Linked DNA regions of Homo sapiens. The protein of the gene in region 5 purifies or fractionates together with the protein of the main gene of each other region. This does not show direct contact. Each region holds a gene or a part of one and is shown on either strand. Other genes may lie near its edges. The genes, in order: PSMB7, RCN2, TULP3, TLN1, PRDX4, UGT2B7 and PPP2R2B.

Evidence for each region.
Region 1: the proteins of PRDX4 (region 5) and PSMB7 fractionate together in Homo sapiens (co-fractionation; one large-scale study listed by BioGRID). This does not show direct contact.
Region 2: the proteins of PRDX4 (region 5) and RCN2 fractionate together in Homo sapiens (co-fractionation; one large-scale study listed by BioGRID). This does not show direct contact.
Region 3: the proteins of PRDX4 (region 5) and TULP3 purify together in Homo sapiens (co-immunoprecipitation; one study listed by IntAct). This does not show direct contact.
Region 4: the proteins of PRDX4 (region 5) and TLN1 fractionate together in Homo sapiens (co-fractionation; one large-scale study listed by BioGRID). This does not show direct contact.
Region 6: the proteins of PRDX4 (region 5) and UGT2B7 purify together in Homo sapiens (co-immunoprecipitation; one study listed by IntAct). This does not show direct contact.
Region 7: the proteins of PRDX4 (region 5) and PPP2R2B purify together in Homo sapiens (pull-down; one large-scale study listed by IntAct). This does not show direct contact.

The regions. Positions count from the first base shown.
Region 1 is NC_000009.12:124,405,443-124,408,942, reverse strand, and holds part of PSMB7 (proteasome subunit beta type-7 precursor), read left to right. Parts: intron 1-3,500. UniProt on the Homo sapiens protein: Component of the 20S core proteasome complex involved in the proteolytic degradation of most intracellular proteins. This complex plays numerous essential roles within the cell by associating with different regulatory particles.
Region 2 is NC_000015.10:76,951,821-76,954,893, forward strand, and holds the end of RCN2 (reticulocalbin-2 isoform a precursor), read left to right. Parts: 3' UTR 1-2,573; downstream 2,574-3,073.
Region 3 is NC_000012.12:2,893,891-2,897,390, reverse strand, and holds part of TULP3 (tubby-related protein 3), read right to left. Parts: intron 1-3,500. UniProt on the Homo sapiens protein: Negative regulator of the Shh signaling transduction pathway: recruited to primary cilia via association with the IFT complex A (IFT-A) and is required for recruitment of G protein-coupled receptor GPR161 to cilia, a promoter of PKA-dependent basal repression machinery in Shh signaling.
Region 4 is NC_000009.12:35,722,196-35,725,695, forward strand, and holds part of TLN1 (talin-1), read right to left. Parts: 5' UTR 3,500-3,500; coding exon 3,370-3,499; intron 3,127-3,369; coding exon 3,029-3,126; intron 2,765-3,028; coding exon 2,635-2,764; intron 2,530-2,634; coding exon 2,377-2,529; intron 2,140-2,376; coding exon 1,997-2,139; intron 1,885-1,996; coding exon 1,757-1,884; intron 727-1,756; coding exon 666-726; intron 29-665; coding exon 1-28. UniProt on the Homo sapiens protein: High molecular weight cytoskeletal protein concentrated at regions of cell-matrix and cell-cell contacts. Involved in connections of major cytoskeletal structures to the plasma membrane.
Region 5 is NC_000023.11:23,673,993-23,677,492, forward strand, and holds part of PRDX4 (peroxiredoxin-4 precursor), read left to right. Parts: intron 1-997; coding exon 998-1,114; intron 1,115-3,500. UniProt on the Homo sapiens protein: Thiol-specific peroxidase that catalyzes the reduction of hydrogen peroxide and organic hydroperoxides to water and alcohols, respectively.
Region 6 is NC_000004.12:69,106,474-69,109,973, forward strand, and holds part of UGT2B7 (UDP-glucuronosyltransferase 2B7 isoform 1 precursor), read left to right. Parts: intron 1-701; coding exon 702-789; intron 790-1,629; coding exon 1,630-1,849; intron 1,850-3,500. UniProt on the Homo sapiens protein: UDP-glucuronosyltransferase (UGT) that catalyzes phase II biotransformation reactions in which lipophilic substrates are conjugated with glucuronic acid to increase the metabolite's water solubility, thereby facilitating excretion into either the urine or bile.
Region 7 is NC_000005.10:146,581,758-146,585,257, reverse strand, and holds part of PPP2R2B (serine/threonine-protein phosphatase 2A 55 kDa regulatory subunit B beta isoform), read left to right. Parts: 3' UTR 1-3,500. UniProt on the Homo sapiens protein: The B regulatory subunit might modulate substrate selectivity and catalytic activity, and might also direct the localization of the catalytic enzyme to a particular subcellular compartment.

The DNA.
Region 1 (3,500 bases), on a different chromosome or scaffold from region 5:
CTTGAATGGGTTCTATACTAGGGCATTTCAAAATGAAAATAACTTTTTAAAATTATAAAAATAATATAATTGTAAAAAACGTAGACACTAGAAACCTGGATAGAAGGAAGTAAATGCCACCTGATGTTCTGCCACTTAGACACATACACTGTAAATTTTTGAAGATCTGTTTTTTCATACCTTTTGTTCTAGATATATATCCTTGTATGTGTTGTTTTGTAATTTCCCTTGTTTACATAATGGTATGTTACAAATATTGTTCCTGTCAGTAGATGAGTTTTTCTCTTGAGCCCATAGAGAAGTTCTGAATACTTGTAACTCTCCTGAAATCAGAAAAAATGTTTGTGTGTACTCTTATGGGGGAAAATTTCCACAATTTTAATCAATTTTTAAGAGGGCTCTCTGACCCATAAAAGCTTAAGAACCATTAATCATTATCATAATTTTTGGTGGTGTCATAGTATCCGTTTTGTGGCTATGTTACAACTTAACCAATTTTTAAACATTAATGATATTGCCCATTTTAAGGTATTTAAGGTATTATTAGGTATTCTACGAACCTTTGGAACATAGAAGCCTTGGGTACTCATGTGATTTAATTCCTTAGCCTGTATTCTAGAATAAATGCACATTTATTTAGTTTTGCACATTTAACATTTTGAAAGATGTTGTCAAAGCTCTCCCTTGACAAACGTTGTACTACCGTCAGTAGCGCAGGAGAAAATGCAGCATGGTTGTTAAATTTTATTTTAGTTTAGATAGGGTCTCTTTCTGTTGCCCAGGCTGGAGTGCAGTGGCATGATCATGGCTCACTTAAAGGCAGTGCATGGTGGATGACTTGAGCCTTAAAATTCTAGGCTCAAGTCATCTGCTCGCCTCAGCCTCCTGAGTAGCTGGGACTAAAGGCCCACGCCACCATGTTTGTCTAATTTTTTGTTGTGTTTGTTTTTTTAAACTTTTTGTAGACGATGTCTCACTATGTTGCTTAGGCTGGTCTCAAACTCCTGGCCTCAAGTAATCCTCCTACCATGACCTCCCTAGGTTTTGGGATTACAGGTGTGAGCCACCACACTCGGCTTAGCATGATTTTTAATGATTGGGTGATGTTCTGTTGTACAGTTGGATCAGTTTAGCCATTTCTCCCTGGCTGTTTCCACTTTTTTAATCATCATAAACAATGCTGTTGTAAACATCCTTGTGCATTCATTTCTGTACATTTGTCTGTTTATATCCTTAGAATAGAGTCCTGGTAGTAGAATTTGTGGATCAATAAATTATTAAAATTTTAATGACTTCAATAATTTGCCAAAACATCTTGATTATTTTAAAGGCATCTAACAGTTGATATTTTAGCTTAGAAGGCAAGTAGCTGATTATTATTAACTTTATTTAAACACCCTGTTCAGTAGACAGTTGGCATAGTGGAATAGGCACTGGACTAGTTGGGGGTGGTGGGACTGGCGATTGTGGCTTCTCTTCCTGGAGCCCTTGGCCCTAGTCTGACCCTGCTGCTAGCTCACACGTGGGGCCTTGGACCAGTTTCTTCCCTTGTCTGGGGCTCTATTCTCTTTTTAGGCTACTGCTAAAATCTTTTCCTAGGAAGTTTTTGAAGTTTTTACTTACAAATGAAATAACAATTTGGTAATCAAGGAACAGGGCAAGTATTGGACCACTGTTCTGTTTACTTAGAGCACTTCTGGATGTGTGGCCATGTCTCAGACAGTCTAAAGTTATGACTTTGGTTCTCATGTTAATTTATTTGTATTTTAATGATTACATCGTTTGGCAAATTCAGTATGTGTCAGTTTTGTTTTCCTTCCCAAAGAGCTAAAGGCTCACAGTGGAGAACTTTAAATCCAGCATGTTTATCTAGCACAGCTAGATAAATTGAGAGCAATTTATGTTGACAAATGTAGATCTAATTCTTCTTTTGATTTTTTTTATTTTTTATTTTTTGAGACTAAGTGTCACTCTGTTGCCCAGGCTGGAGTGCAGTGATGCGACCTCGGCTCAGTGCAACCTCGGCCACCCAGGTTCAAGCGATTCTCATGCCTCAGCCTCCCACGTTAGGAGTAACATTGGCCTCCTAATGTTAAAAAGCTGTACCAAATACAGGGAAAGGAATCTATAGAAATGGAAAAAAAGGGTCCAAAGGAACAAATATGTGCACAATTAAGTGGAGATGGTGTGGGTGGAAAATATATTCCTGTGATGTTCCTGAGGAAGTGTAAGTTTATCCTATGTGTAGTAGCAGTGGTTTCTTAGGCTATCATGGAGTTATTTTAATATTCACTTTCCTGAATGATGAAATACTTTTTTTTTGATACGAGTTCATATATGTAATTATAATATGGGTTAATTCAAAGGCAGAGGTGTTTCGACATGAGCCATTTTTCTGTTTGGGCTGTGGTGAGGTTGATACTTTTTTTTTTTTTTTTTTTTTTTGAGACAACTCTTGCTCTGTCCTGGCTGGAGTGCAGTGGCGTGTACATGGCTCACTGCAACCTCTGCCTCCCAGGCTCAAGGGATCCTCTCACCTTAGCCTCCCAAGTATCTGGGACTACAGGTACATGCCACCATGCCTTGCTAATTTTTTGTATTTTTTGTAGACAGGGTCTCGCCATATTGCCCAGGCTGGTCTTGAACTCCTGGACTCAAGTGATTTGCCCACCTCAGCCTCCTAAAGTGCTGGGATTATAGGTGTGAGCCACCATGCCTGGCCTTTGTGGCCAGGTTGATAATTTGAACAGTGGAACAGCTGAGCTTAGCACCTCCTCATTGTTAACTGTGGAGGTAGCTTATGTGCTGATCACAGAGAGGTGTGATGGGAAAAGTGCTGATAATCTTTGGAGTCAGTCCAATTTGGTTCTGAGACCGGGCAAGTTCTTAATGTCTCTGGGTTGGTTTTTTCTTTTCTAAAATGGGAATGATAATGTTGTCTTTTAAAGGGGACTGTGGGCTGGGTGTGGTGGCTCACACCTGTAATCCCAGCACTTTGGGAGGCCAAGGTGGGAGGATTGCTTGAGTCCAGGAGTTTGAGACCAGCCTGGGCAATTTGGCGAGACGCCATCTCTCCAAAAAAAAATACAAAAATTAGCCAGGTGTGGTGGTGCACACCTGTAGTCCCAGCTACTTAGGAGGCTGAGGTGGGAGGATTGCTTGAGCCTGGGGAGGTTGAGGCTGCAGTGAGCCGTGATAATACCACTGTACTGCAGCCTGGGTGACAGAGTGAGACCCTGTCTCAAAAAAATAATAATAATGGGGGCTGTGAGGCTGAGCTGAAATCAGGTGTGTGGAGTGCCTCACATAATTTATAGTTTATACTGGCTGACAGTAGATGTTCATCTAATGTTCCCTTCCCTTTTTTGTTCCCATCAAAACAATAACCCCTTAATGAAACAGTCTTAAGGAAAACTTTTTGTTACCTGACTTCTCATGCAACTTTTGGCTAAGTTACAGTGATGCTTTGTGGACTCATGTTTTTTTTCTTATGCATACTC
Region 2 (3,073 bases), on a different chromosome or scaffold from region 5:
GAGTTCAGGTACAACTTCAAAGGGGAAAATTGAATGGGATGTGCACATGTTGGCTCATATGTAGTTCTGATTGGGCCAATTTGCAGGACAGAAAATGATGTCTAGATTATGATATAAATTTAAAGGAAGCCAGGACGTTCAGAGGAAAAGCTAGCATATCATGTTTGCCTTACTTAGTTCTTTCCTTTGCAGTTTTAAAAATAGGCTTTTTTTTTTTTTAGTGTAGTTTTATGTTCACAGCAAAATTGAGCAAAAAGTAGTATAGAGAGTTTCAATATGTCCCCTGCCCCACATACGTACAGCCTCCCCCACTATCCTATCCTATATGTCATGAGATAGTACCTACCAGAGTGGTACATTTGTTAAAATCGATGAAACTGTTAACATATCATTGTCACCCAAAGTGCATAGTTTACATTAGGGTTCACTCTTGGTGCTGCACATGCTCTGGGTTTGGACAAATGTATAATTACATATTCCCACCATTGTAGTGTGGTAGAATATTTCCCTTGCCCTAAAGTCTTTCTGCTCCACCTATTCATCCCTCCCTTCCCTGTAACCCCAAGCAATACTGATCTTTTTACTGTTCATAATTTTTTAGATTGTAGTAAAATACACATAACAAAATTCATCTTAACAGTTTTTAATTGTACAGTTCGGTGGTATGGTATTAAATACAGTCAAAATGTGAAACTATTACCACCTTCCATCTCCATGAACTTCATTTGTAAAACGGAAATTTATACCCATTAAACAATAAAGCCCCCTTTCCCCTTCCCTTCAGCACCTGGCAAACACCATTCTAGTTTTTTTGTTTGAGATGGAGTCTTGCTCTTGTTGCCCAGGCTGGAGTGCAATGGCATGATTTCGGCTCACTGCAACCTCTGTCTCTTGGGGTCAAGCGATTCTCCTGCCTCAGCCTCCCGACTAGGTGGGATTACAGGCGGGCACCACCATGCCCCCTAATTTTTTGTATTTAGTAGAAATGGGGTTTCACCATGTTGGTCAAGCTGGTCTCGAACTCCTGATCTCAGGTGATCCACCTGCCTCAGCCTCCCAAAGTGCTGGAATTACAGGCGTGAGCCACCGTGCCCAGCCTCCCATTCTAGTTTTCTTTTTCTTTCTTTTTTGAGACGGAGTCTCACTCTTGTCATCCAGGCTGGAGTGCAGTGGTGCGATCTCGGCTCACTGCAACCTCCACCTCCCAGGTTCAAGCGATTCTCCTGCCTCAGCCTCCCAAGTAGCTGGGATTATAGATGCCCGCTACCACGCCCGGCTAATTTTTGTACTTTTAGTAGAGACGGGGTTTCGCCATGTTGGCATGGCTGGTCTCGAACTCTTGACCTCAGGTGATCCACCTGCCTCGGCCTCCCAAAGTGCTGAGATTACGGGCATGAGCCACCGCGCCCAGCCCCATTCTAGTTTGTGTCTATTAAAATAGACTCATATAGTATTTGTCTTTTTGTGAGTGGCTTCACTTAGCATAACGTCCCCAAAGTTCACCCATATTGTTACCAGAATTTCTTTCGTCAGGCTGAACAATACTTTATTGTTTGCATATACCACATTTTGCTTATCCATTCACCCTTTGATGGACACAGGTTGCTTCCACCTTTTATTGTGAATAATGCTGCCATGAATATGGGTGTACAAATATTTCTTTGAGATCCTGCTTTTAGTTCTTTTGGATATATATTATACATAGAAGTGGGATTGCTGGATCATATAGTAATTCTATATATATATATATATATATATATATATATATATATATTTTTTTTTTTTTTTTTTTTTTTTTTTTTTTTGAGACGGAGTCTCGCTCTGTCGCCCAGGCTGGAGTGCAGTGGCGCGATCTCGGCTCACTGCAGGCTCCGCCTCCCGGGTTCACACCATTCTCCTGCCTCAGCCTCCCGAGTAGCTGGGACTATAGGCGCCTGCCACCGCACCCGGCTAATTTTTTGTATTTTTAGTAGAGACGGGGTTTCACCGTGTTAGCCAGGATGGTCTTGATCTGCTGACCTCGTGATCCGCCCGCCTTGGCCTCCCAAAGTGCTGGGATTACAGGCGTGAGCCACCGCGCCCGACTAGTAATTCTATTTTTAATATTTTGAGGAACTGCCATAGTGTTTCCCACAGCAGCTGTGCCATTTTGCATTTCCACCAATAGTGCACAAGAGTTCCAGTTTCTTTACATCCTTACCAACACTTGCTATTTTCTGTTTTTTTTTTTTTCTTTTTTTTTTTTAATAGTAGCCATCCTGTTGGGTGAGACGTGGTATCTCGTTGTGGCTTTGATTTGCATTTCCCTAATGGTCTGTCTCTACAGTTTTGCCTGTTCCAGAATATCATTCCTTTGCAATTTAAATGTGAGGATAAATGTATGCTATTGTTTCTCAAACGTTTTTGTGTTACAATACCTCCTTTTGAGTGAGAAATGTCAACTCAAACTTACACTTTTTCACTTAGGAAGATGATTTAGGAAAGCCACTTAGAGTAAAAGTTTTTAAACAACTGTAAAAACTAATTTGCTTCATTGCAACATTTGAGTTCTGTCGAATAAATATTTGGCCAGATTTCCTGCCTGCTATAAAATTTTTTATAACTAGTAACCAATTACCTAAGGGCCTCCAGTGCAGCTACTAAAACGTCTCTATTTTATTTGGCGGGGGGGGGGGGAAACACCTCAATCCAAGCACAAAAAAAACAAGTACTGCTGAATACCTACAGTTTGCCCTATCTTTATCTCAAATTAACCAGTTAGTTCCTGAGCTGTAGAAAGGAAACCATTTGAGCTTATAAAACTATTTTAAAGTGATTATGGGGATTTTTAAAAATCTCATAGCTTTTAATCATGATTTTTCATACCTTAAAGAAAAAAACCCTACTTTTGCTTTCTGTTCCACAGAGATATTTTTCTTCTGAGACCAGGTTCCAATGAACAGAGGGCATCAACATTTTGCTCAGTTATTGTACCATTAGCAGTGATTGGTAACCTAAGTAGAGAGACTGTTCCATTACAATGACACACTAAAAGCATAAACTAAGGTCTTTTTGTGCCAGCTGCTGGCCTGTC
Region 3 (3,500 bases), on a different chromosome or scaffold from region 5:
ACTTTATCACCTTTCAAAAGCTTTCGAATGTTGGAAACCCAGAAATTTCTAATAATTTCCCCTGTATTAAAAAAATCTTTAGGCTGGGCGTAGTGGCTCATGCCTGTAATCCCAGTACTTTAGGAGGCCGAGGCAGGTGCATCACCTGAGGTAAGGGGTTCGAGACCAGCCTGGCCAACATGGTGAAATCCTGTCCCTACTAAAAATACAAAAATTAGCCAGGGGTGGTGGCAGGCACCTGTAATCCTACCTACTCAGGAGGCTGAGGCAGGGAGAACTGCTTGAACCCAGGAGGTGGAGGTTGCCATGAGCCGAGATCCTGCCACTGCACTCCAGCCTAGGCGACAGAGCGAGACTCCAAAAAAAAAATTTAAAAGTCCAAAATTGTATTGTTATTGAAACATTGTTAAAATGTGTTGTCACTCTGCTAGTTGCACTTAAGTACAGTTCTACTTAGTGAATATTTAATACTGCCTGCCAGGAATTATATTAAATATATATTATTTTTCACATATGATGTGTGATAATTTTCACGATAACCTTGACAAAGTAGGCACTATAATCTCATTTTACAGACAGATATGAAACTCATAGATGCTCTAAATGAATTTCGGGAGAAAGGAGGTGAACTCCTTTCATATGAGTTTCATATCTCTCTGTAAAATGAGATTATAGCACCTACCTTGTAGATTTATTGAAGTTTCTTCCTGCAAAGCTAAATAGCAATAATTTTATTTTTCCAGGAGCATATTTGAAAAATATTTCTTGCTTTGTTACAGCCTTATTTTCTACACATCACAGGAAAGCAATTTTAAACTTACAACTATAGTTCATATTCTAAAGGTCAAACAGCTGATCAGCGAAAGAGCCCAAATTCAATCACAAGTCTCACTCCCAATCTACCTGAATGTGTTAAACCACACGACTGAACACGTGTATTAAAATGGTCAGCAGAGACAGGAATTTCATTCTCTGGTATTTCAATATGTTCATTAAAAATGCCAGCTGACTTGCTATTTTTAGGTAGAACTTCCAAGCCAGTGAATGGATTTTTAAGCAGCCCTGGGGAGGAGTGCCCTGAATAACGACATTTAGGTCAACCATACTGCATATACAACAGGGGTCCCCTAAGATGATAACACCACATTGTCAGCCAGGCACAGTGGCTCACGCCTGTAATCCCAGCACTTTGGGAGGCAGAGGCGGGTGGATCACTTGAGGTCAGGAGTTCAAGACCAGTTTGACCAACATGGTAAAACCCCGTTTCTACTAAAAATACAAAATTAGCTGGGCATGGTGGTGCACGCCTGTAATCCCAACTACTTGGGAGGCTGAGGCAGGAGAATCACTTGAACCTGGGAGGCAGAGATTGCAGTGAGCCGAGATCATGCCATTGCACTCCAGCCTGAGTAACAAAGATGCGACTCCGTCTCAAAAAAAAAAAAAAGTATTCTCACTGTACCTTTGCTATGTTTAGATATGCTAATACTTACCAGTGTGTTCCAATTGCCTACAATATTCAGTACAGTAACAGGCTGTATAGCTTTGTAGCCTAGGAGCAACAGACTGTACCACAGGGCCTAGGTAGGTAGTAGGATATCCCATCAAGGTTTGTGTACACTATGACGTTCACACAACAAAATCCACTAATGACACATTTCTCAGAATGCATCCCCATCATTAAGTGGCAAATAACTGTATAGAGTGAAAGAGGCATCAGATTTCATCATGTTCAAACTGATAACAATTTCAGATAATTGTGGAAAGAGCTATTAACAAAGTATGTTTCCTAACTCAATTGACAAATAGGTTCACCTTGTCCAAATCCTAAATGTCAATATTCGAAGGCCATGTTTTTACACATACTGACACACCAAGAACACATCTGGCTTGAACAAAATATTGCTTCTGAGAAAAGACACATAAAGGTCATATGAGAAGTGTCAGAAAAGAATTCCTTTGACATCTATCCTTCCTCATCTAGGGAGAAATGTTAGTATTCTAAGCTCAGCTGTCCTCTACTTGAAAGACGGCCACAATCTGGAGCTAACTTAATTGAAGCCAGGGAATGAACATCCATTTCCTAGGAGGCCCATTTAGTAGAGACACAATCAGAGCAGGGAGAACTGCCTGGGGAGAGGGAGGCAATGAGAAGCAAAGGCTGGCCGCTGATTTGAGCATTCCCATAGCCCCAAAGAATGCTGCAGGGAAAACTATTTTAGAGTAAACCCCTCCTGATTTTGCAAGTACCACACAGCAAAAGCAAAAAGCATTCTTTTGAGTGAACTAAACAAAAAGGCTATTTAAGATGTATGATTTAATCCAGAAGTTAAAAGAATGCATTTATTACTTGTAGATTCAAACAGACATTACTCAGAACTTAAGTTCGTTTTAACTTTTGCCCAATTCTCCCTTCTCAGGGGTTATATTTTCTCTCTTCGGGAATGTTATTTATTTTCACTATTTCTTATTTTTATTTCATTTTATTTTATTTTTCAAATGGAGTTTTGCTCTTGTCGCCCAGGCTGGAGTGCAGTGGTGTGATCTCGGCTCACCGCAACCTCCGCCTCCCAGGTTCAAACAATTCTTCTGCCTCAGTTCCCGGAGTAGCTGGGACTATACGCACACACCACCATAACTGGCTAATTTTTGTATTTTTAGTAGAGACAGGGTTTCGCCATGTTGGTTGGGCTGGTCTTGAACTCCTGACCTCGTGATCTGCCCACCTCCGCCTCCCAAAGTGCTGGGATTACAGGCATGAGCCACTGCACCTAGCCTATTATTGAGCTTTTTATCTTGACAGATCTCTTTTTTGTGTGCGTGCGTGTGTGTGTGTGTGTGTGTGTGTGTGTTTTTGAGACGGAGTCTTGCTCTGTCACCCAGGCTAGAGTGCAGTGGCACAGTCTTGGCTCACTGCAACCTCCACCTCCCTGGTTCAAGCGATTCTCCTGCCTCAGCTCCTGAGTAGCTAAGATTATAGGCACCTGCCACCATGCCTGGCTAAGTTTTGCATTTTTAGTAGAGATAGGGTTTCTCCATGTTGGTCAGGCTGGTCTTGAACTCGTGACCTCAGGTGATTTCCCCCCCCCCGCCCCGCCCCCCCGCCATCTCGGCCTCCCATGGTGCTGGGATTACAAGTGTGAGCCACCATGCCCAGCCTACTGTTTATATTTCTAAAGAGAAATCATGGTATATGGACAAACCACCGACTGGGATTTCTTAGATGACTCCAGCTCACAAGGTCACACCACAGTGGGAAGCACGCCTTCAATTCTCAATTCTCTATCACTTACAAAAGGCCAGATAGGGCTCAAGTTCCAGCACCAGCCAACCCCCGTCATCTCCAGGGAATCTATATTATAAAATGCCTAGCCTCAACAAAGGTCCTGAGTGTTGTTTCAAATTTCACCTCCAATTTTCACTAAACATTTCTGATATAAGAAAATAGGCCAAGCCTGGTCGCTCACACCTGTAATCCCAGCACTTTGGGAGGCTGAGGC
Region 4 (3,500 bases), on a different chromosome or scaffold from region 5:
CACTCATCTGCCCACAATTCTTGTGTGCCTGTGCATAAAATGGGGAAGAATTTAGCAAAGAGTTTCATATCACAGCTAAGGAATTAAGGTTGGATGCTAACTCTAACGAGAGAGAATTATGGGGACACTGGAAAGGTTGAGGAGTACAAGATATGAGAACGAGAGGGTAACGGGATGGAGGCTGATAAGGGCTATGCAGAAGCGATGAGTCAAGGGATACAGTCAAGGAACTTGCAGACATTCTGGAGATATGAACAGAGAGTTTGGAAGTAGAAGGGCAAAGAGAAGGCCTTCTGGGCTGAGTATTCAGAGTGGGGGTAACACCTTATAGTGGACAAAGACTATACTCTTTCACAGTAATTTCAGATTATGCTACCTCATTTGATCCTATCAGTCCTACACGGGGCAAGTACTGTTATCCCAAATCAGAGGTAAATAAAAGATTACAAGAATATTGAACTGAATTGCACAGCAAAAGCAGGGATGGAGCTGAGACTAAAAGCCCAAGCTGTCTGCTTTCTTGGCAGAGGTGAGGTGGGATAACAGCCCGGTGGGTGAAAGCCAAGTTAGGGGAGACGGGGAGGAGGCAGGGGGCCATTTAGTCAGTAAGATTAAGCAGCAAAGCTCCGCGGTCATCCCAAATACTTTCCCCTACCCACATTCACCTGGAAGATCTTACGCTCTCCCTTCTGCTTCACATACTCCTTGGGCAGGAAGTCCTTCAGGCTACACCAGAAAAGGGAGGGTCAGCATGTGGTAGACAGCATCAGGGGACATGTGGGCCATGAACTGTGGGCCTGGGGGTATGAGGAAATACCTAGGACAGTGTTATCTTTGGGGAGAAAAAAGACTCTGAGGGAATAGAGTCTAGATTATCTTCTGAAATAGAGGTGACTTCGTGTAAACTCTTCTTTTTTTTTTTTGAGATGGAGTTTCACTCTTGTTGCCCAGGCTGGAGTGCAATGGCACGATCTCAGCTCACCAAAACCTCCACCTCCCAGGTTCAAGTGATTCTCCTGCCTCAGCCTCCCGAGTAGCTGGGATTACAGGCATGTGCCACCACGCCTGGCTAATTTTGTATTTTTAGTAGAGATACATGGTTTCTCCACGTTGGTCAGGCTGGTCTCGAACTCCCGACCTCAGGTGATCTGCCCGCCCTGGCCTCCCAAAGTGCTGGGATTACAGGTGTGAGCCACCGAGCCTGGCCAGTATGAATTCTTAATGTGACCTGTGTCTCTCCCTGTAGGGAAAGGGACTGAGGAAAATTAAGTTAGAGGCTCAGTCCCTGAGGGAAAGTGGGTCTAGAGCACCATTTCAGGGAACCAAGAGGAGAAAGAGCTTTCTAGAAGGATGAACATGCACTTAGGAAGCTGAGAAAGCCACGCCAAACTCTGCATTCCAAGAAACACCAGCAGATGAGGCTTGTGAGACTTTTAACCCATGTTCCCTATAGGGAAAATTTTACCCGGTTTCCCTCTGGCTACTGCAGCAAAATTCTTCAGATAATCTCAAAAAAGAGTGACATGCTTGCTTCAGAGATGGGGGTAGGGGCAGAGATACTGAACTACATTCATATTCCAGAGGCAGAGAAGAGACAATGGATGATGGCAACTAAAAGGGTAGCTATGTTGGTCAAACCCTGGTACCTCGGAAGAAGAAATAGTGGGGGGCAGGCTTGGAATGGAGACAGGCCCACTGGGGTCACAATGGCAGGGAGTCCTGGGCCCTGACAGGGTATAGGATGTGGGTCACTCACTCAAGGAAGCCAGCCTTGTGCTTCTGCTCATTGTGGGGCCCAAACTGGATCTGGCATTGGAAGCCAGCAAACTCACAGGCCTTGTCAAAGGAGACAGGGTGGGAGCCATTCAGGATGTCATCTCGTGCCTGGAGAGCACAGGGCAAGGAGGCGAATGTTGTGTGTGGGTGCAAGGACACGCACACTGTGCTTCCGAGCCCTCCCTATTCCTGCCCCACCCCAGCCAAGTCCTCTGCATACCTGCACATACAGGAGGTTCAGCTGTACAGGGTCCCGGGAATCCACATTCTGGTCTGAGTAAAAGAACTTCCTCCGCAGCAGCAGCGTCTCGTGCTCCTCTACACCCTGCTCCCTCAGTGTCCGACCATGGTCCAGCCAGTTCACTGGGATACAGACAGTCCCCTCAGTGCCAAACCCCCATGGCCCCTGTGCTGTCTGGTCTCTGTTTATTTCTGCATTTCCTACCTCCCCTCACTTAAATGTAAGTCCCATGAGTGTAGGACTTTGTTTTCTCACTGATGTATCCCCAGGGTGTAAAACAGTGCCTGGCAGAAGCAGATGCTGAAGCCCCTTCCCACCCTTCCCATTTCAAAAGCCCTCTTTTTTCTAGTTCTGCTTACACTCATCATCTGTGTGCAATTTCTGCTTTAGTTTCTCCATCTTCTTTTCATCTCGCAGCAATGTCTTGTCCTTTCTTAAGGTCCCTGTTATTTCCTCCTTTTTCTCTTCCATCAGCTCTCGAACCAATGAATATTCATCATGATTGGTGATGCCTGAGGAAGGAGATGGCTTGTTAGCTTCCCAGGTACTGCATCCATGCCTTTTGAGAGAGTTGAGGCTTTCTGGCCCAGGCTTTCAACTGTACTAGGGCCCCTTACCAATGCGGGCACAGATGGTCATGAGCATGTCAGTGACAGTCTTAGAGTCATCCACCATGATCGTCTTCACAGTTCCATCCAGCATACGGATCTTCAGGGGTCTCTGTTTCTTCCTGTACTCCATAGTGTCCTGTTAGGGCAGGAAGAAGAGACAGGGGCCTACTCTGAGCTAGGGGTATTATTTCCTCTTTACACAGCCCGAGGGGAGAGAGTGGAGCACTGAAAGGAAGACTATGGTGGTTCGTTCAAAAGCAGGGAATTATGACTGTCTGTTAATAGGAAGAAAGCATGGGGAGGGCTAAGAGACAACAGATGTGGGTGCTGAAAACAGGAGGTGGAACAGGGAGAAGCTGATGGAAGGGGATGTGGTGGTCCTTGATGAAAGGATACTTACCCCATTTCGGAGCATGTAGTAGTCCAAAGCTTTCCCAGCCTCCAGCCATATACCCTTTTTGGGGTCATCATCTGACAGAAAGAGCCCAAAGTCGCTGGCTAAAAGAGAGGATGGATCACTTTAGGCTTATGAAGACCCCAATGTGGCTGAACAGCTTGTACCATGTTGCCCCTGACTATTTCTCCCATGACCTTGGGCCTAAAGAACGAGGGAACCATGGAACACAGACCTGAGGGGTGAGTAGTCTTAGGGGACAAAGGGGTCAACTCTCAAGGCCGAGAGCCTGGGAACAAGAAGGGACTGAAGACTCCCACTCCAGCCACCGGGGGAGTCAGACTCACGAGGACCAGCTGGGGCCTCTGGGATCCGCTCACGAATGATGCGGCAGGCGTCGTACACCATGGTAGACGGCTCAAACTGCATCGTCTTCACCACATTCCCAATGCTGATCTTCAGTGAAAGTGCAACCATG
Region 5 (3,500 bases):
GTAGGAAATACATTTTTCGTTGTCAGCCAGTACACAGGCACATATATATACGGTAACATTCCATCTGGATGCACCAGCACAGCCATGCTCCTTAAAATACTGAAAAACCCTCATATCATGTGGTAAATAGCCACTTCCCTTTCCTCACCAACTAGTTAGTCCTCCTGCCTGATCCCTTTCAGAAACCTCCAGAACTAAAGCCAGCTTTGAGTTAAGATTGTTAAATATTTTGAATATCATCACTGTTGAAGACAAACATATATATTTGTATATATAAATATGTGTTTCATAATTTACCCTTAGTATGTATGATAGAGTCTCCTGTTTTCTATTCGATTTCACTTTTTAAAAATATTTTTTAGAACTCAGTTAATTTAAGGAGTCCCTACCACGGTTTGAAAAAATGCCACCCTAGTAATATTCTGTAAACATGGCCTGACAACATGAGGGTATTAAGGTATAAAATCCCTGGCTGCACAGGACTGGTAGACAAGGTGGAAGAGGACCTTATCAAGAAAGGAGGGGTGGGGGTACTGGAAAACATTGCCTCCTCTCCAAAATACACATAGATGCATCTAATTCATAGGGTTGGTATAGGAATATTAAAAAAAAAATAGTGAAATGACATAAAATTTGTATAGATCCTTTGAAAGCTATAAAATACTATATAAATAAAAGGTATTATTAAATAAAAGTAATAAAATGAGGGGTGGCTATTGCTATAAGGGAGAAGGGAACATTGGTTGACTACTGATCTATTAAGTTGTAATAAGAAAGTTTATTGAGATGTAGTTGGGAACTCTGTAATATGTTTCTGTCTTAAATATTTGATTAAATGACAGTCTTTTAGACTACTCCATTTTGAAAAGGTTCAAATATAAAATTGTTCTTAATGTGCATTTTTATTATTAAAGGTATTTGTAAAAATTGTCATTTGAAAGTTTAGGTATATGCTTATTTGGAGAATACTGAATATTTTTTTTTTTTTACCTTTCAGCACATTTGTGTGTCCAACTGAAATTATCGCTTTTGGCGACAGACTTGAAGAATTCAGATCTATAAATACTGAAGTGGTAGCATGCTCTGTTGATTCACAGTTTACCCATTTGGCCTGGTCAGTATCTTACACTTATATTCGTAGAAAAAAAAGAATGGATTTACTCTTAAAGCATGGACAGATAACTCTTGATATGATATAAGAATATAGTCATTTATCAGACAATTCAGGAATAGCTTTATCTAAGAGTAATACATGTAACTACACATTTTCCAGGTTAAAAAAAGAGAGAAGAGTAATATAATCAGCTGCTATAATAAAAATGCTTAAGGATTTTATAGGACATTTCAAAATAAGGGGAAAAGTTAAATGCAATAGATGTGATTTCTATAGCGAAAACCACTGAATTATATGCTTATGATAAATTGGGTTACCATAATCTGGAGGAAAAAAATCTTTAAAATATGCCATTTCTCTGTTACACAGTTATATAGTCAAACTCAGCTTTTACAATTTTGAAGAAACAATACTTTTTAAAAATGAATTTTAAAAAATGTTTAAAAATTCATTAATCATAAAAAGATGTTTTACCTAAATTCGTTATAAAGAATTGCAAATTAAAATGACGAGATGCCAATTTTCCCTGTCTGGTTGGCCAAGATTTAAAAGATTGAAAAAATGTATCCACTGTGGACAAAAATTGAAGAAACGGCACTCACACACAGCTGTTTAGCATTTCTGGAGAGCAGTTGGGCAACATGTCTCAAAATTGGAAATTTACATGTTAATATGAGTTTTTATAGTGTCCACAGTCTTGTGCAGAAAACTTTGTGCACAATAAAGACCATTCAGAATTGGGCTGGGCACAGTGGCTCATGCCTCTAATCCCAGCACTTTGGGAGGCCGAGGCAGGCAGATCACCTGAGGTCGGGAGTTCGAGACCAGCCTGACCAACATGGAGAAACCCCGTCTCTACTAAAAATACAAAATTAGCCAGGCGTGGTAGCAGGTGCCTGTAATCCCAGCAACTCAGGAGGCTGAGGCAGGAGAATCACTTGAACCCAGGAGGTGGAGGTTGCAGTGAGCCGAGGTCACGCCATTGCACTCCAGCCTGGGCAACTGGGCAATGAGAGTGAAACTCCATCTCAAAAAAAAAAAAAAAAAAAAAAAAAAAAAAAGATTCAGAACTATTGGTTTTAAAACATAATATTCAATTTATTAAAGTTACAAATTTGAAACACAAGCTTTTCTCATTTATAATCTGTGTGTGTATAACAAATTTTCATTGCTTGGTGAGCTACAATTTAATTAATTACATTTCCCTAAGAAATTAATTCCCATAAGTATTTTTAAATGCAGTTATATATTTAATATATTTGAATTCCTTAAGTATCTCAATTTTCAGACAAACCTTCCCAAATACTTAAGTAGTTCTAATATGCCAAATTCTCTTAAACATTATAAATAACTTAACATATAAATATGTACTGATTATTTCTTAATGTAAAAATATTAAAATAGCCTGGCATGGTGGCTCACGCCTATAATCCCAGCACTTTGGGAGGTCAAAGCAGGAGAATCATTTCAACCCAGGAGTTCAAGACCAGCCTGGGCAACATAGTGAGACCCCATCTATACAAAAAATAAAAAAAATTAGCCAGGTCTGGTGGTGCATGCCTGTGGTCCCAGCTACTCGGGAGCCTGAGATGGAAGGATGACCTGAGCCTAGGTGGTCGAGGCTGTAGTGAGCCAAGATCATACCACTGCACTTCAGCCTGGGCAATAGAGTGAGATCCTGTCTCAAAAAAAAAAAAAAAATTAAAATATAGGCTTAATTTGCTTCATCATTTCCTTTAAAAAAAGAAAGACAGGGTCTTACTATGTTGCCCAGGCTGGAGTGCAGTGGCACAATCAATCATAGCTCCCTGCAGCCTTGAACTCCTGGGCTCCAACAATCCTTCTACCTCCCCAAATAGTTGGGACTGCAAGCTTGCACCACCATACCTATTTTAATTTTTATTTTTGTAGAGATGGAGTCTTGCCATGTTGCCCGGGCTGTGCTTCATCACTTCTGTAGTAATTATAAATCTTCCGAGGATTAAAATGCATATCCACTAAGGAAAAAGTTATGGCATCCCAAATAATTTGGGATTGCTTTCCCAAGGAAATTTGGGGATACATTCTCAGCCTGATAGGGTTCACATCAACCAGAAATTTCTACTTGGGTGTCAGAACTGGGGCTCCAGATATCTAGAGCAATGTCGTTTTGTTTTCTATCTGCTGTGTCAGTACCCTCCTGTTAGAGCATCAGCCCATGTCTCCTGGTTTCAAGTTACAGAATACAGATTGAGCGTCCCTAACCTGAAATCCACAGTGTTCCAAAATTCAAAATTTGAGTGCTGACATGATGCTCAAAGGAAATGCTTAGTGAAGCATTTCAGAGTTCAGATTAGGGATGTTCAACCAGTAAGTATGCAGATATACCAAAATCGGAAAAAATCCT
Region 6 (3,500 bases), on a different chromosome or scaffold from region 5:
ACCATATTTTCTCTATTCAGCCCATAATCAATGGGCATTTAGGTTGATTCCATGTCGTTGCTATTGTGAAAAGTACTGCAATTAATACACCTGTGCATGGGTCTTTATAAAAGAACCATTTATAGTCCGTTGGTTATATACCCAGTAATGGGATTGCTGGGTTTCATGGTATTTTTACCTCTAGGTTTTTGAGGAATCGCCAGTCTTCCACAATGGTTGAACAAACTTACATTCCCACCAACAGATTATAAGCAAGCCTTTTCTATACTACCTCACCAGTATCATGATATTTTTTGAGTTTTTAATAATAGCCATTCTGACTGGTGTGAGATGCTATCTCATTATGGTTTTGATTTGCATTTCTCTAATGATGTTAAGCTTTTTTCTTTTTTTTTTTCATATGATGGTTGGCCACACGTAGGTTTTCTTTTAAAAGGTGTAACAATTTTTTAAATGCTTGAAATTTTCATTGATAATCTGATTTTTTCTAAGGTACTATTTTGGAAAATCATGATTTCCTTATATACCTAACTAATTATAAAAGTTGAGAAAATTAATGTGAGTATTCTATTTACATTAGTCTTTGAGTAGTTCTTATTTACTAACATCCCTTGATCTCATTCCTACTCTTTATACAGTTCTCACATTCTATAACTTTTGAATTCCACTCATGGAATAAAATATTTTCTTTATTGTAACAGGTTCTGTGGAGATTTGATGGGAATAAACCAGATACCTTAGGTCTCAATACTCGGCTCTACAAGTGGATACCCCAGAATGACCTTCTAGGTAAGACTCTGGTGAACAAATACTGAATATATTAGTAACAGCACATTAGAGTGTTAATAGTTCATCATGAAACAAGCTTATTGAATATTTGTTAAGGAAAAACAAAATGTAACTTCTTTATATTGATTTTCCAGTCTTAAGGGAGAAAGAATACATTATAATTTTTGGCATTTTATGATATACACCCACATTCTTTATAGTCTGAATCGGGGGAATCTTTATTTCAGGTGTTATTATATCTCACAAAATTTTTCAATAACTTCCTGGGCTGTCTCTCTGTCTCCTATTTCTACAACTTTACACCTGTTTTTTTCCTCTCCCGCAGGGTTATTTGAAATGCCACTAAAAATAATAGCTCTTCTATCACCAGTGACTCTGTATTTTCTGAAGAATTAAACTGCTAATCTTAATCATACAGTGATGATACATTTCACGATGAAGTGTGACCTGTCCTTCCTCAATCCTAGCACCACCACCAAACCACTGCCTGCTGCCTTGCCCACCCCATATATCACACTCTGTGACTGCACTTAAAATAAGAGTTCACTTCATGCCTATCTCTTTGCTGTCTTCTTTTTTGCACATTTTTGAAATCTAGAATGCAATTTTTCATTAGCCCAACTGGAAATCTTGTATTGTTTTGCAGTCTGAAGTCACACACACCGTATAGCCTTCAGTTACATACCCAGTACAAGTACGTGTTTTTTCCTCCGAAGTCTGAAACACAATTTTAATTTAGTTCAGTGTTTTAGCTGGAAAACACTGTCACTTTCAGAGCCTTTCATTGTGCATCTCATTTTATTCCTATGAGTAATTTTGCTAAAATTCATCCAATCCTAGGTCATCCAAAGACCAGAGCTTTTATAACTCATGGTGGAGCCAATGGCATCTACGAGGCAATCTACCATGGGATCCCTATGGTGGGGATTCCATTGTTTGCCGATCAACCTGATAACATTGCTCACATGAAGGCCAGGGGAGCAGCTGTTAGAGTGGACTTCAACACAATGTCGAGTACAGACTTGCTGAATGCATTGAAGAGAGTAATTAATGATCCTTCGTGAGTAGAACAATATTTTTCACTAGGTGGTATTTACAGATAGCTTCTCTTGTCAATAGTGAGTGTGAGTTTCATCCTTTTTATAAGAGACTAATTTTGAAAGAATTTAAATGATTTAACCAATCTGAAATCTGCTTTTATTTTTATAAGTTATTTAAAAATTGAATTTGAAACACATACATCTAAAGAATAGCCAGTTAGTGAAACAATTTTCTACACAAAAATAATTTTAAAAGGATATAGATAATACAAAAAATACATTTCTTAAAAATTTGACATAATTAATCCATAGAAGAAAGGAAGAATAAACCTGAAATAATATAATAAAATATTTTAATTAGATATCTAAAACACCTCAGAGTATAACCATTTTCTTGCTGAAAAATTAACTTTTATTATTATCATTATTGTAACAGACTTGAAAATGAGATTTAATTTTGATAGCATAAAACCCCCCTGTTTATGTTATAAAATCCAAATATATTTAGTATGTTTACAGAGCCATGAAGCCATCACTATTACATAATTTTAGAACATTTTTATCAACACAAAAGAAACTGCAATGACACAGAAGTCACTTCCTATGACCGCTTAGCCCTGGTCTAACTAATTTGTTTCCTTTCTCTATAGATTATTCTCTTTAGATATTTCATATGAATGGAATCATACAGTTTAGGGTGTTGTGAAATGACATTTCACCTAGGCTAATTTTTTGTTGTTTTTTTTTTCTGGTTTTAGTTTCATTCATGTTGTTGTGTGTTTTAATACTTCATTTCTTTTTATAGCAGTTTAATATTTTTTAGTAAAGATATGTCATATTTTAGTTGTTCACTTATCAGTTCATTGGCCTTTTGATTGTTTTCAATTGTGGCTATTAGGAAGATTGCTACACATGTTTTTGCATAAACATGTTTTCCTTTCTTTAGGGTTGATACTATAAGTGGAATTGCTGCTTCATGTGGGAACTGTATGTTTATGAAGAACTGCTAAACTGTCTTCCAAAGTACTTGTTTCATTCATGACTACCACCAGCAGTACAACATGGTTCCAATTCCTCCATACTTTTGCCAAACCTGTTATTCCCTGACTTTTTGTTACAGCCTTCTTAGTGGGTGTAAAATGATCTCTCATCCTGGTCTTGGATTGCATTTTCATTACGGCTAAAGGTGTTGAGAATCTTCATACGTGCCTACTGATCATTCATATATCTTCTTTGAAAACAGTCTATCCAATCCTTGGAACATTTTTAAACTTTGCTATTTGTCTTATTATTAAGTTTAAGAACTATTTATATATTATGGGTCATGTCAGATATATAACTTGTAAATATTTTGTCCCACTCTGGGTGCACTAAATTTTACTTTTTGATGTTGGTCTTTGAAGCACAAAAAATATAATTTTAAGTTAAATTTTTAATAATTGATTTTTTCAAACCCAAAGATATCAATGTGCAAAATTCCTTGTGGAGTCCAGCTACCATCAATTCAGCATTTATAGCTACTATCAATAATGTTTTTTTATATAAGCAGGGTATCATCTAAAGGAATACTTGAAAAATACTTTATCACAAAAAAAGAAGGATAATGAATGATAAAAATACCTTTAAAGAAGATAGGAAATAATTGAAAAAGAACACAAACCAGCTTGGACA
Region 7 (3,500 bases), on a different chromosome or scaffold from region 5:
GCATGTAGATGGAAGTTACTGATCAGAAAACAAGCCCCAGTAATGACCCATAAGCTCAATGAATTAAAGATTCATTGGTTGCCTGGGATGTGTCAGGCAGCCAGGTTCTAGACAAGGGGCTGGAGTTACTAAGATATTTAAACCACTGGCCCCTGCCCTCCAAGAGATGACACTCACATAGGAGAAAGTGCATATTTGCATACTGTAAACATTTTTACAATGAGATATCTATGAAGGGCAGAAGTCATACAGAGGAAGAAATAGTTAATCAATGAGTGATAAGAAAAGGTTCTCAGAATGTGTCATCTAAGCAGAATTTTAACTAAATTTGCTCAACAAAGCATGATACAGCGTTTCCAATAGGTAGACCAACATATACCAGAATATGAAGCAAAATCCATATGGCATGGAAACAGAAAGCCAATGTTTCTCTCCTTCCATTAGAAACACATTTTCGACATACTAGAACTAGCCTACCCCTTTTTCCTTTTGTTCATCCAATAACAAATATTTATTAAACCTTATTTTAAGCACTGTATTTAAGTGTAAAGTAGACGGAAAGAATAAAAGGAAACCAATATTTCCTGAGTAGTTATTGCAATGACAGGCATTGGGAGAGGCACTGTTTTAAATCATTGTTAATCACCTGATAGGTAGATGTATTATTCCATTTTTATAGCGAGAAACAGACTCAAAAGGGTTAGATGACGTAGCAGGAAGTTTTATCTAGATCTATCCTGTTCCAGATCCTATACTTCTTCCATCACAGTTATTGGTAATGCAGAGTTACCTTGGCTTGATTATTTTCCCTAGCGTGGATACTCACAAACACGCCATTTCTCTGTGACTAAATATTGCCTGACAGCTGACCAAGAATACAAATTTGGTCTGTCATCAAAGCAGAGAGTGAAGTCAAGTGGCTCACAGGTCTCCAACTTCTGACTTTGACCTTATTATGACTGATTAACTGTCCCCCAATTTAGATATTCCATGCCCCATTGGTTAAACTGCTGGTGGCAGAACCATCATGATCTGCCATCTCCGCTGATCCCTGCCTCAGCTGCAATCAAAGCAATGATCACTGTCAGGCCAGAAGAAGGGGCTTAGCCACTGCCAAGACAGATCCCAGTCCACTCCCAGCCTTCCCGCCCCTGCTGCTCATTCCCCAAAAAGTCAACCTGGGTTTTCCTGGGTGAACAGTGCCCACTGAACAGCTCCTGCTTGCCCATCTCAAGCCCTCTCAGTTGCCACTCCAATCATTTTGGCTGCTGTATTTGGTTTGAGAAAGAGTGGAGAGGACACTTCTTCATAACTCATATTTGACAGAAACCCAGAAATTGTAGGAACAAGCCATGATTGCTGTGATTCTTGCTCTGGTTGGCTAGGGATGCCCTCCCTTCCAGCCAGAGTAATACATACTTGTGGGAGTCATGGAAGACTGAGGAAGCTGGAGTAGAAGGGAACAGGGGCTTTCCTCAGTGGTAAAAGGAAAAGCAACATTTTGGAACTCTAAACAGTTGCTCAGTTGGGCGAATTTCATGCATTCATTCATTCATTTACTAAATGGTTAATGATTGTTCATGTACTGCCTGCCAAGCCCATGCCAGGGTGGTCTGTGGAAGCAGCAGTGACAGCTCCATCTTCACACAGCTCACAGATAGCGGGAGGTGCAGACAAACTCACAGGCAATGGTGGCAGTGGAATGTCAAGAGCCCAGGATACCGAGCCTGCCAGCCTGCCTGCCTGGGTTAAAATCTGAGCTCCACCATGTAAAAGCTGAGCAACCTAGAAAAATGACAACCTCTCTGTGCCTCGATTTTCTCATTATGAGATAAGGATAAAAACGACATCTATCTCATAAAATTGCTGTGAAGATTGCATGATTTAATATGCACAAAGCTCTTAGAAGGATGCCTGGCCCACAAATATGCATTCAGTGCACATTTCTTGCTACAGTTCTGCTAATCCTATAAAACATATGCACTATGATGGATGTGTCTGGGTGCCAGGAGGACACAAAGGAGCACTAACTCATCCAGACCAGAAGCTTCCCAGAGGAGGTGATTCCCAAGGTGAAATCCGAAAGATAAAGGGAGTGAGTTATCCAGGAGAAGAGAAAGGAAAAGCATATTCCAGACATCAGGATAGGACAGTGGAGGCAAAACAGCATATGCTATATATATATGGAATTCACAACACTCTGGTATGACTGATTAGTAAAAAGTAGGAAGGCAGACCAAGAGAAATAAGGAGACATGGTAAGGTGAGTGGGCAATAATGCATGATCTGAAAAATAATAATGCATGGACTTAGTGTGGTTCACATATCAGGAGCTTCTCCAATAGCCAGGCTATGAGGCACTAAAATGAGGAAATATGGTTTCCAAACTTCGCAAATACTTATAGTCCAGCCACAGGGGATATACTGATAAACTCAGCTCAAATGTCACCTCCTCAGAGATGCTTTCTCAACCACCCTTAGTTCCATGAGGACTGCATCATTGTTTAGGCCACTCCTGTATCCCCAGAGCACAGAACATTGTCTGGCTCATAGTAGGTGCTCAAAAGTTTTGTTGAATGAATGAACAAATAAACGTGTAAGGAAGTCAGGCACAGCACTTGCCCACAGGAAGCTTATAAGATGAGCGGCATGCCATTGGGAGTTTGAATGATATATGGAGATCCAAACAGGGCATCAGAGGACTGCTCAGAGGAGTCAGGGAATTAAGAAAAAATTGGGAGCCAGTGAGCCAAGATGTGTTAAAAGCAAGTGATCAAGCTTAGATTGCAGTGTTAGTTAATAGAGCATATGTGTCCCTGCCTGATGCATTACCTTCCCTGCAGTAGTTAGCCTTCTGGGACCCTGAAAAGCATGCAGAAAGGTTGACAGCTTACAATCAATACCATGTTCACTGATGCAGGAAGCAACATTATCACATCCAAGATATTGCCCCCACACCCAGGCTGCAGCACTAAATATTCCCCATAACAAGGCAAAGGGAAGTGACAAGAGCTATTATTCTCAACCCTCCCACTTGGAAACAAGAGGTGAGACAAACCTTCCCCTAGATGTTCTTAGGGAAAGGCAAGACCCCCAAAGAAATCTTTCAGAGCTGAGCACATGCCTAATACAGCAAGACAGGGATGGGAGAAGATTGGCATTTTCATTTGCCTGGGTGTCCACAATATTGCAGGGGAAGCTCTGTGGGCAGCTGGGAAATACAACAATAAATTGGAGGGGGATGAACAATAGGGTCAGTGGGGCTGTGTGCTGAGTGAATGCTGGATTTTATTCTACATGCCCAATTCACTCCAATAAGATAAACTTGACTTCCTCCAGTGTGGCTTTCTTATTTCAGCTTCTCTGACTGTGGCATAATTGAAAGTCATATTTCATCTAGACCATTGGTTTTCAACTCCAAATGCAGGTGGCTTATGAAGACTCAGCCTGAATATATAAAGAGAACAGCAAACAATCATAGTTGCATATTAAAGACAATC